3 separate regions of the Homo sapiens genome follow, and regions 1 and 3 are each linked to region 2. The links come from fine-mapping of genetic effects on gene expression. A gene starts in region 2. Each other region holds a variant in brackets. All regions are shown on one strand. Distances are from middle to middle. Region 1 has its middle 160 kb from the start of LINC01482. Region 2 holds the start of ABCA10 (ATP binding cassette subfamily A member 10). Region 3 overlaps ABCA10 (ATP binding cassette subfamily A member 10).

What was found. PIP is the estimated chance that this variant, and not a neighbour inherited with it, causes the effect. A credible set is the group of variants that fine-mapping cannot tell apart.
Region 1: its variant is the best candidate, but not a certain one, in a credible set for the expression of ABCA10 in sun-exposed skin (GTEx, PIP 0.80).
Region 3: its variant is the best candidate, but not a certain one, in a credible set for the expression of ABCA10 in whole blood (TOPMed, PIP 0.86).

What each region holds. Positions count from the first base shown.
Region 1 is chr17:68,786,316-68,790,565 of GRCh38, reverse strand. No RefSeq gene overlaps it. Among named protein-coding and RNA genes, the nearest start is that of LINC01482, 160 kb to the right of the region's middle. The variant G/A (reference allele first, on the strand shown) is at 1,885.
Region 2 is chr17:69,226,680-69,230,929 of GRCh38, reverse strand. ABCA10 (ATP binding cassette subfamily A member 10) reads left to right here and starts at 2,106. Exons shown (of 39, transcript NM_001377321.1): 1 at 2,106-2,349; 2 at 3,645-3,785.
Region 3 is chr17:69,150,800-69,155,049 of GRCh38, reverse strand. It overlaps ABCA10 (ATP binding cassette subfamily A member 10), which reads left to right. Exons shown (of 39, transcript NM_001377321.1): 30 at 1-31; 31 at 724-815; 32 at 1,041-1,219; 33 at 1,504-1,579; 34 at 1,651-1,745; 35 at 2,569-2,688; 36 at 2,867-3,007. Among named protein-coding and RNA genes, the nearest start is that of ABCA6, 11 kb to the right of the region's middle. The variant C/T (reference allele first, on the strand shown) is at 2,178.

The DNA.
Region 1 (4,250 bases), 440 kb after region 2:
GCATCCCACGGCCTCTTGCTACTGGCAACCCCTCATCCTAAGGACAGCTCTTGTGGGAGTCAAGATGGTGCAAGCCCAGTTGACTTCCTTGGTGGCCCACCACATGACCTGTGGAAACACTGCAGACCCTTGGCACAAAATGGATGGGAGTACAGCTGCTCTTCCCTCATGCCTCTCCCCACCCTACCAGTTTGTTCTAATCCTCTTCTTCCTTAGGAACAGATCAGCAAATGCAGTGTCTAAGCAGAAATCCAGTTAAGGAAAGGAAGGCAAGTGCTCCCTTCTGGGCATCACCCTCCCTATCATCTTTATTACAGATTCTCTTGGAAACTCTCTCCCTCTCCCATTCTTGGATGTAGTGAGGGGAGGGAAAAGGGGAAACCTCTCACTACAAACTCTGCATTTCCCATGTGGCCAGTGACAGGATCCTTCCCCATCTCCTCAAGAGTGGGGGGCTAAAATAAAATTAAATACCTAGGAATTAACTTAACCAAAGAAGTGAAGGATCTCTATAATGAAAACTATAAAACACTGATGAAAGAAACTGAAGAGGAAACAAAAAAATGGAAAAAGATTCCATTTTCATGGATTGGAAGAATCAGTGTTGTTAAAGAACACTGTTGTTACTCAAAGAAATCTACAGATTCAATGCAATCCCCATCAAAATACCAATAACATTCTTCACAGAAATAAAAAACATCCTAAAATTTATATGAAACCAAAAATGGCCCAGAATAACGAAAGCTATTCTAAGCCAACAGAAAAAAAAAACTGGAGGAATCACATTACCTGACTTCAAATTATACTACAGAGCTATAGTAACCCAAATGGCATGGTACTGACATAAAAACAGACTCATAGACCAATGGAACAGAATAGAGGACCCAGAAACAAATCTACACACATACAGTGAACTCATTTCCACCAAAGGTGCCAAGAACATACACTGGAGAAGAGACGGTCTCTTCAATAAATGGTGCTGGGAAAATGGGAATCCATATGCAGAAGAATGAAGCTAGACCCCCATCTCTCACCATATAAAAAATCAAATGAAAATAGTTTAAAGATTTAAATGTAAAGCATCAAACTATGAAACTACAAGAAAACATTGGGGAAAATCTCTAGGACATTGGTCTGGGCAAATATTTCTTAAGCAATGCCCCACAAGCATAGGCAACCAAAGCAAACATGGACTAATGGGATCACATCAAGTTAAAAAGTTTCTTCACAGCAAAGCAAACAATCAACAAAGTGAAGAGACAATGCACATAATGGGAAAAAAACATTTGCAAACTACCCCTCTGACAAGAGATGAAAAACAAGAATATATAAGGAGCTTATACAACTCTATAGGAAAATAATCTAATAATCCTATCAAAAAATGGGCCAAAAAATTGGATAGACATTTCTAAAAAGAAGACATACAAGTAGCAAACAGATATATGAAAAGATGCTCAACATCACTGATCATCAGAGAAGTGCTAATCAAAACTGCAATGAGATATCATCTCGTCCCAGTTAAAATGGTTTATATCCAAAAGACTACAATAACAAATGCTGGAAAGAATGTGGAGAAAGGAGAACCCTTTTACACTGTTGGTGGGAATGTAAATTAGTACAACTACTATGGAGAACAGTTTGAATGTTCCTCAAAAACCTAAAACTTGAGCTATCATATGACCCAGTAATCCTACTGCTGGGTATATACCTAAAAGAAAGGAAATCAGTATATCAAAGAGATATCTGCACTCCTGTATTTGTTGCAGCACTGTTTATGATAACTAAGATTTGGAAGCAACCTAAGTGCCTATCAACAGAAGAATAGATGAAGAAAATGTAGTACATATATACAATGGAGTAAGATGAATGGATAAGGAAAATGTG[G/A]TACATATACACAGTGGAGTACTATCCAGCCATAAAAAAGAATAAGATCCAGTCGTTTGCAATGATATGGATGGAACTAGAGATGATTATGTTAAGTGAAATAAGCCAGGCACAGAAAGACAAACATCACTTGTTCTCACCTATTTGTGGGATCTAAAAATGAAAACAATTGAACTCATGGACAAAGAGTGTAGAAGGGTGGTTGGTTACCAGAGGCTAGCAAGGGTAGTGGGGGACTTGCAGGGGTGGTGGGAATGGTGAATGGGTACAAAAAAAATAGAAAGAATAAGATCATAAGACCTACTATTTGATAGCACAACAGGTTGACTACAGTCAACAATAACTTAAGTGTACATTTTAAAATAGCTTAAAGAGTGTAATTGGATTCTTTGTAACATGAAGGATAAATGCTTGAGGGCACAGATACCTCATTCTCCATGATGTGCTTATTTCACATTGCATGCCTGTATCAAAATGTCTCACGTACCCCAAAAATATATACACCTACTATCTACCCACAAAAATTAAAACTTTAAAAATTGTTTAAAAGAGTGGGAGACTTACAGCGTGGGTCTGGTTCTCCTATATCTTTGGACTCCCTGGGGCAGGAGTTTAGGATCTTTAGGGGTCTACTTCTAACCTGTTTGTTTGTGCCAAGTTCTTCTTTACCAAAAAAAAAAAAAAAAATTATTGGTGAGAAATCTAAAGTACATAGCATACTCTTTCAAACAAGGACCATTTTGTTAAACATTTAGTGAATGTCCACTGAATGTCTGATGCTGGAGTTACAGAGAACCTGATGGTTAACTGAGAGAGACACTGAGTCACAGAGTAGCTCAGATCATCTCCCCAGTGTGTGAAATGCACTGAGCCCAGAGAGTGGGGCTGACTCCCCTGAGAGAGATCATAGATTCCCCCCTCAGCGTGAACCACAGAAAACAACCTGGTGTTGGCAGCAGAATGGGAAGTGGATGAAGATACATGAGAACAGCCAGTCATAGCTGACATGTTAGCACCAAAAAATGCTAATCTCCATGTTGAAACATGACATTATAGACTGGACATGCAACTGAAGATCATAAAACTTGATTTACTCAGCACCTTTGTGACCATCACAATCAGGTGTTCCTTGGCCTCGGTGCCAGCTCCCATACCTGCAAACCTGCGTGTCCCAAACCCAATATTTGACTTCACATGCATTCTGCTTATTTGTCTCTGATGACGACTAACTTCATTTTTCACATCCCCCACTTTGGCCTTGAAGACCCCTCTTTGGGTGCTGTCTCCCCATTTATCTGCACTGTGTAATAAGCTTTTGTCATTGTTTCGCTCTGAGTGTGGAGCTTCAGTCTCAATTTCCCCCTCACACACGTTCTAGCCAAATGAAGCAGCCTCACCAAGGGTCCTCAAAGCATGGTGAAGCTCTCCTATGCTCTGTTCCTGTTAGTAACATGATGCCCACATTAGCATAGACGAGCACAGAGCTGTGAAGAAGATGTTGGAACATCTCTTGCCTCTTGTTTTCCCAGCTTGACCTCTTAACCTATTCATGACAATGATGTTCATCTCCAGCCACCACAGTTCCCTGCACACAACATGCACCTGGCTGGCTCTTCCCATATATCTTCATCCACTTCCCATTCTCCTGCCAACACCAGGTTGTTCTCCGTGGTTCACACTGAGGGAGGAATCTGTAATCTCTCTGGCAGGAGTCAGCCCCATTCTCTGGGCTCTCACTGCGCTTCACACACTGGGGAGATTATCCGAACTACTCTGACTTGATGTCTCTCTCAGTTAACCATCAGATTCTCTGTAACTCCAGCATCTGATGCTCAGTTGGTATTCACTAAATGTTTTAAAAAAATGGTCCTCATTTTGAAGAGTATGCTATTTACTTCAGATTTCTCACCAATAGAGTCTTTTTTTTTTTTTTTTAGGGAAAGAAGAAATAAAAAACAAACATCATTAATTAAGCAACTGCTTATATACCAGGAATCAGCCTCTTCTATTCTTTGATGCCTTAGTGAAATGGTTGAGTAATTTCACGTTTTTTTAAATAAAGAAACTGAGACTTAAAAAAGCAAGGTAGATACCTCATAAGTGTCTGAGCCTGATGTGCATAGTAGGCTATCTGGCTCCAAAGTCTTGGATCTTTCCACTATGCCTTTAAAAATATATAAAGGGAAAAAAGGAAGGAGGGAAAGAAGGAAGGAAGGAAGGAAGGAAAAAAGAACAGGAGGGAGAGAGCGGGGAGAGGAAGGAAGTAGGGAGGGGAGGAGAGGAAGGAAGGAAGGAAGGAAAAGGAGGGGAGGGAGAGAGGGGTGAGAGGAAGGAAGGAGGGAGGGAGGGAAGAGGGAGGGAGGGAG
Region 2 (4,250 bases):
TCATATGTAATTGCCAGTCATATGTAAAGAAAGATGGAAGGAGAGAAGAGATTGTAATAGAAATTAACAATAAAATAAAAAGAGATAACCAAGAGAGCTAGATTTTTAGATTAGGTAATAGAATTTGATCGAAGGATTCTGCAGTGGTGTTGAGTTTAGAAAAAATTGGCTGAGTTTCCTCTGGGAAATTAGAATGAAATAGAGGTATGTGGAGGAAAACTTCTGCCAAATTGCCTCTGATTGTTCATTAATATAGTACATTTACCTGCTGAAAGCCATCGTGCTTTCAGGGGTCAAGGACTCAAGAGTAAGGAAGAGTTTGATGAGGAGGTGCTAGTTGGTATTATGTAACGTGGATGTGCATAAGCCTAAATCTGGAGTATTTCAACATTCTGACTCTGTAGCAGAACTGTATAATTATAAATATGTAAAGGCTAAGAATGAAAAGGGTCCAAATCCTATTATAAATGTGTAACAGAGACCTGAGGATTTTATATGACCTCTCCAAGGGACACAGACAATGAGTGACAAGTCTGCAATGCAGGTCTCAGACTCCCAACTGTACCGTATTGGAGATTGAAATCCCTAAAATTATTGTCTTAGCTTGTTTTTTATTGCTATAACAGAACACCACAGATTTAGTTGTACCCAGCAGACTGGGTAATTTATAAAGAAAAGAAACTTATTTCTCACAGTTCTGGAAGCCGAGAAGTCCAAGAGCATGGCACTGATATCTGGTGAGGGTCATCCCACAGTGGAAAGGTGAAAGGTGGAAGCATGTGCATGAGACAGAGAGAGAGAGAATTGGGCCTAACTCATCCTTTTATCAGGAGCCCATTCCCAAGATAATAGTGTTAATCCATTTATGAGGGTGGAGCCCTCATGACCTAATCACCACTTCTAAAGGCTACACTTCTCAATGCTGTTTCATTGGTAATTAAATTTTAACATGAATTTTAGAGGAGACATTCAAATCACAGCAATTATGGAAATAAAAAATATTTTAAAAATTTGGTGATTAAGAAGGGTGTATGTCTGTATTATAGTATGATTTTAATTGTTTTCCCCACCCATTTAAGTGAATATTACCATTAATGTCTGGGATCGGAACCAGGTTAAGTTTCATGTTTTCTATTTCATGAACTTTTACTTCTAGTAATGATTTTGCCTGAATAGGAAGAGAAATGTCACTAACAACAAAGGAAAGCAATTAAAGTATGCTTCCTTTGTTGTTAGTGACATTTACAATTAAAGGAACCATTTATTTCCATATTCCTAATGAAAATGGTAATCATTTGAAGAGTCTCTGAGTCCTTTACCCTTTCTGTCTCTGTCACTTTCATGAATGGGCATTAGCTTCTGTATGCATACCAAGAAGTGTATTATTATAGTTAAAATCACATAAAAAGATTTTCAGGGTTGATAAAGAGGCATTATTTGCCATTCTGAGAATATCCAATTTAGTTGTAGCTGAAAAAAAAGTAACAAAATCATTAAAGTTATGCCATCTAGTCTATACCACTACACTTTTTAAATGGGTATCAGATATCATTGTCTTGATTAGCACCATTTTCATAGTGGTAGTTAAGAGTGAGGGATCTTGGAGTCCAGATACTATTCTGGACTCATCTGTTGGCTTCACACTTATTTAAACATCTGCAAATAACTTCACCTGTTAGCCCCACCTTTCAAATTTGTTTAATGGATGTGAGTAGAGTACCAACTTTGTAGGTTTGCTTTGAGTATCAAATGGGAGAATTCATTTAAACCCTTAGAACACTTTCTAGTACATAGGAATTAGTGAATACAAGGAACCATTTAACTGAAATGCAGTTAACTTTCAGATGAAACTTTCTCATTGGAATGATTCAGATTTCTGAGATGAGCAATCCTCATTTTCTCTCTCTCTGTTCAACTTTATCTTTAATTTGCTCCTTTTTTAGCTTGGCTGTCAAATTTTTAATTATTAAAAGTCATGCAATTGTAAATATGTAGTTATCCATGCAATTGTAAATATGTGGGTTTTTCTTTTTGAATTTGATCTCTTTTTTTGTGTGTATGCCAAAAAGAGCAATAAACAAATACCAATGATGCGCTCAGCCAACAATTCATTACACTCTCTGAAGAGTAACTGGACAAGGAGAAAAACATAGGGAAAAAACCAACAGAATTTGTTGGCATGTTCTACACACAGACCATGGCTTTTCAGAAGCCAAGCTGAATCAAAACAGTTTTAAAAGAGGCAACCATTTGTAGAGGAGTCCTTGAAGGATTCTTCATTGTTTTCTTGGACAAAAAGAGACCAGTGGATCCAAGTGCTTCAAATACTTCTCTCTTATTTTCTTAACTGTAAGTTAAAATTTGTTTTACATTTTCACTTTGCATAAGGTTTTAAAGATATAAAGTATATAGCCAAAGCCAAACATATTGATTGAAATTTTTAAAATTATATTATTCAGATGCTCTAAATTATTTTATGCTTTATGTTATAGTACTAGTGAGTTATTTTATTTTAAAAACTTATGTAACATTTTAGTGTGATAAATGAAAGATGGCTAGATTCAGAGGTGTATATAAATATTATCAGACAATAAATTCTCTCTCTGACACTGCTTTGAATATCCTTTTGAGAATTTGTATGGTTTTACTTCTTTAGAATGTGTGAGCATTAGGGCAAGTTCCTTTTTTCTGTGTTCTTTTGTTCTTTTAAAATGTTTTTGTGGTTTGCTTATGGAGCTGTTTAAGTAGACCTCTGTATCCATAAAGTGAAGATTGGTGTTTTAATGTTTCTACTTTCTTAAGTTAGAATTTAGAGATTATATTGGGTTTTGCTGGCTTTGCCTTTTATTTTATGAAAAAGGGGAAATATAGCAAGTTCTCTCTGAACATTGTAATTTGTATATAATATCAACATTTATTCAAATGGACTTCAGTAGTCATAGTTGTGACACCAAATGATCAGCTCTGGATTTTCAAATTGAAAACAAAGAATAAGGATCATTATTACAAATCAATTACTCTAGTCATATTAGCCAATATTTTTGGTTTTAATCTGTATGTATCTTACATATTTACTTCATAAATGGAGATTTAAAAAAGAGGAATTAGCTTTTTGGGATTCTAAGAATGGCCGTAATGTTTTCGACTTTGCTTTGCCCAGTGGTTAACAAGATATCAAATACATGTGCCCAGATGTGCAATTCAAAATAAGACAGCTTGTGGTCAAATTGCTGACTGACAAGGAACTGCAAAGTGGTTTCTTCCTGTTAAACTTCTTTTTCTTAACAAGTAAAGAGAAAGTGTTTTTTGGATTCTAAAAATTACTAAGATCTTATTGAGGGATTTACTTTAGGTGGATGTAATGTTAAGATTTCATGGAAAAAAAGTGACTTCTGAGACAAAAGGAGAAAGGTCTTATATACTATCTCCTTTATCTCCCTCATAGCCATAAAAGCCTGGAGAGAAATAACAACTGAGAAGACATTTTATAATTACTAATACTTTATATTCTTTTTTAAAATCCTGATTGAATATGTTGCTACAGTGTCATATAAGGCATTTAGTTGGCACATCTGAAAATTATGCTTTCAAAATGTTCAAAGGCTTTCTGTAACTGAACTTTTTTTTTTTCTTTTTTCCCCTAGCTATTGCTCTGCAATATTTACTTTACCCTGTTAATGAACAGGACAAAATGGTTAAAAAAGAGATAAGCGTGCGTCAACAAATTCAGGCTCTTCTGTACAAGAATTTTCTTAAAAAATGGAGAATAAAAAGAGAGTTTATTGGTATGATTCACTATATATATATATATATATCCATAATTAATAAATGAAAATCCACCATATAGTATTATGCCATTTTTATTACTTTTCTTGTTTATAAATTCTGATTTTTAATTATCATACTGGCTAGTTGATTTGAGATTCTAAATACTGCAAAACGATATATATTTTGCAAAATAGGATAATATTTGTGTCAAATGTGAAATTAACTAAAAAGCTCATCTGACAGCTCCTGAAAAATAATCTTTTGCAGAATAGAACCAGCCATTTTCCACATAATTAATGCATTCAAATCTCAGAGTCATTCTGATTTACTCTTAGCTAACTTCTGTGTTGGGGGCAGGGACAGCCAGGGGAAAGATAAGCTAGGCAAAATAAAATAGATTTTTACGTGGGCAAACCCTGATACTATTTGGGGACATTTCGATTAATGTCATGTTATTTGGTAAGGCTGGGAAAATATCTATG
Region 3 (4,250 bases), 76 kb after region 2:
ATCAGAAATGTTTCCTTTTGTGTTAAAAAAGGTTTGAACAATTGTTCCTTTTATTATTATTATAATGTTCCTTATTCTCTAGATTTAAGACTACAAAGGGGACAAATTTTTATTCATTGAGACTGTTCATATATCCTGGTTAATGTGTAATTATAAAACTTCTTCACATGTCAGCAGATAAGTCTTTTCTACTTCAAAATCATGTCCCAATTCAAATGGCAAGAAACCCAGTCTTGGATTAAGAAGACCCTGATTCTCTGTATTAATGTTGTAATACAGGAGATTTTTCAAGGTGCTAACTAAGCATTTGTTTCAGAAATGTTATTTTGAGGTGGCCACGGTGGCTCGTGCCTCTAATCCTAATACTTTGAGAGGCTGAGGCGGGAGGCTTGAGGCCAGGATTTCGAGACCAGCCTGGGCAACATAGCAAGACTCCATCTCTACAAAAAATTTAAAAATTAGCTGGGTGTGGTGGTGCATGCATGTAGTTCTGGCTACCTGGGAGACTGATGCAGGAAGATCGCTTGAGCCCAGGAGATCAAGGCTGCAGCAGGCAATGATTACACCACCACAGTCCAGCCTAGGCAACAGAGCAAAACTCTGTCTCTGAAAAAAAAAAAAAAAAAAAAGTCATTTTGTTTCAAAATGTTATGCAACCAACCAAGCAATTTTAGATTAGTCAACCTTGAAAATTCAAATATTGATGGTGACTCTTTCTTCCAGGTGAAGTTTTGGGATTACTAGGACACAATGGAGCTGGTAAAAGTACTTCCATTAAAATGATAACTGGGTGCACAAAGCCAACTGCAGGAGTGGTATGTGACATGTGAAGGAAATTTTATTTTAAATATTGATGACATCTTTCTATTATTCCTATCAGTAAATCAAATATCTTTTTAAAAAATAGATGAAAGAATTTATAAAATTTCTCTTGCGTATTCAAAAAATATTGTAGCTTAATGGCCACTTTTATCTCCTTTAGTAGAAGGGGGATTGGAGCAAAAACCAAAGGTGAATCTGACATTCATTGTCTTGTGCAGGTGGTGTTACAAGGCAGCAGAGCATCAGTAAGGCAACAGCATGACAACAGCCTCAAGTTCTTGGGGTACTGCCCTCAGGAGAACTCACTGTGGCCCAAGCTTACAATGAAAGAGCACTTGGAGTTGTATGCAGCTGTGAAAGGACTGGGCAAAGAAGATGCTGCTCTCAGTATTTCACGGTACAGAGAGAAGTCTCACAATTTGTAGCAGGAGGAAGGGGAAAATATGTCATTTCTTCATTATATATTAAAAGGAAATTATAAACAATGTCTTTAAATTTTCATGCAAATAAAATGATTCAAATACCTGAATAAGAACCAAATCATAAGATTTAGCATTTATGAAAACGTTAAGGAAGCTTAAATTTACTATCTAGAATAATAGTGCTTAGAGTTTCCTACAGTTGTTTTAGATAGGTCCATTTGCCATATACTTCATGTATAATCACACTGTTTTTTGTCAGATTGGTGGAAGCTCTTAAGCTCCAGGAACAACTTAAGGCTCCTGTGAAAACTCTATCAGAGGGAATAAAGAGAAAGGTATGGGCCAGGCTCGGGGTTTCCCTGTGCACCCATGGCTGGGTGCCGACGGGCTGTTCCTTGCATTGCAGCTGTGCTTTGTGCTGAGCATCCTGGGGAACCCATCAGTGGTGCTTCTAGATGAGCCGTTCACCGGGATGGACCCCGAGGGGCAGCAGCAAATGTGGTAAGGAGAGTGAATATTAAGTGTCAGAGTCAAGAGAATACCTCTAGGATATTTTGTTTTTGTTTTTGTTTTGTTTCTTTGTTACATTTTGCTCCATTAACCTTTGATGTGCACATCTTCTATTATGTAATTCAGTGAAACCTAATATAGCATTCAAAATTCCTGCAGGAGGGAAAAAATAGATATTTTAAGACCCAAATAAACTCTTGATTATATTTGTTTGGATTTCTCTTTCTTATTCCTCTTCCCCCTGTCTTTTTATTTTTCCATTTCATTTTTCAGTTATTGAAAGTCATATAGTATGATGTTTCTGTATTTTTTACTCCAACTTTCCTACTTTTCTTCCCCAATAGTGCATTATTTTAACCAATACTCTTCTTTTTTATGAAGCCTATTAATATGGTACTATCATTAGGCAATATAACACAATTT[C/T]TATTCTTTTTCTCTATGGCAAAGATTTTCTCTTGTAGCCTATTTATTTATTTATTTATTTATTTATTTACTTAATTGTATTACTTGACACAGGGTCTTTCTCCATCACCCAGGCTGGAATGCGGTGGTGCAATCACAGCTCACTGCAGCCTCGACCTCCTGGGCTTAAGTGATCCACTCATCTCAGCCTCCCAAGCAGCTGGGACCACAGGCATGTGCCACCATGCCTGGCTAATTTTTAAATTTTTTTGTGGAGATGGGGTTTCACCATGTTGCACAGGTTTCTTGCATCCTAACATAACATTTTCTCTTTAGATTTCCTGCTTTTTTCTATTTATCTATTTCCCCAAATTACTTTCTAAATGCAAACAATCCCTTACTTTATCTTTAGGCAGATACTTCAGGCTACCGTTAAAAACAAGGAGAGGGGCACCCTCTTGACCACCCATTACATGTCAGAGGCTGAGGCTGTGTGTGACCGTATGGCCATGATGGTGTCAGGAACGCTAAGGTGGGTGCCTGTCCTGACCAGCATGGGACTAGCATGTTCTTATAGAGAGAGTTTCAGTTTGCTATGAACAGCTGATGCTCTACAGCTCCCTAACCTGTAATTAAACACCTTCCTCTACAGTGAGAACCGAGGAAGAAATTAAGAGACAAGTATTTTTTCTTTATTTCCCCTGAACTAGGTGTATTGGTTCCATTCAACATCTGAAAAACAAGTTTGGTAGAGATTATTTACTAGAAATAAAAATGAAAGAACCTACCCAGGTGGAAGCTCTCCACACAGAGATTTTGAAGCTTTTCCCACAGGCTGCTTGGCAGGAAAGGTAAAGGATGTTTTCGGTTTGAGTGACAAGTATGAGTGTTTTCCAGTATTAGCATCAATTAGTTTTGTGCTAGTCTAAACCGGAAGAGAAAGGCAGAGTGGACTTATTCATCACAAAACAACCTGTTTGAGGATTGCTAGGATGCGTTACAAAAACTAAACAGTTATTTTCAGTGAGTGTTTTAGACCTCAGAAAAGGTGAATGGTGTGTGTGTGTGCATTCATATATGTGTGTAAATGGTGGAATGGCTTGGAGATTAAGAACAAAGTACAGACAAATTAAACTATCAACTTTTTAATGATTTTTAAAAAATAGACAATGAAAACAATGCTTTCACCTACAGGATTTTGCTGAATATAAATTGCATCAAGAGCTCCGTAACACAGACTTCCATGCTTGAGAAGGATTGACTCTATCCTAAATTATTCAATTATAAATCATTTGATCCTCCCAATGTTTCTTTTAAAGTTGTATGTGGTCAACCATGTGTTACAAGTAATGGTAATCAAACCCTTGTGAATAGCAGAATGAGGCTGAATTTAATTGAAAGATGAACAGAATTTTCTTGTATACCATTTCTACTCATTTATTTTTATAATATTTGTTATATTTATTGAATACGTATTATCTGCTGCCGGCTGTGTATTGAATAGTCAACAAAATAGACAAGGTTCTTCCTTTTGGAGGTGAAGATATTAAGCAAATGAAGATACAAATAAATGAGGATATGACATTGAGGTAGGACTTTAAGACTGAGCAGGGTTTGGTCAGCTGAAGAGTGGGAGTAACAGACACTGTTTCCAGGAAACAGCACATTTAAAGAACTTAGGTCAAGAATGAATTCTACAAATGTCAAGGATGAAACAAAAGCTCATGTAGTTGATGTGTAAAGAGATATCCAAGTGGAGATGCCAAAGTAAGAGATGTAGACCTGTGGCTCACAAGAGAAGGAAGAGGTCATTGAGATCTGGTCTGGCAACAAACAAAGTGGGGGATTTTTTTTACCATATAGAAGACCATTAAACTAGGAGAATGTTGAGGCCAACAAGAGAGATAGGAAGTCGGATGAACCCCAGGAGCTCTCAGCTTTGAGATGGGATTGAGGAAGAAAATAAATCTTCCTGTGTGGACAGTACCACCACAACCATACCAACAAAGACTGAGGAGTATCTAGAACAGCATTGGCCAGTAGAATTTTTGTGATAATGAAAATGTCCTTTCTGTGCTGTCCAGGATGGTAGTC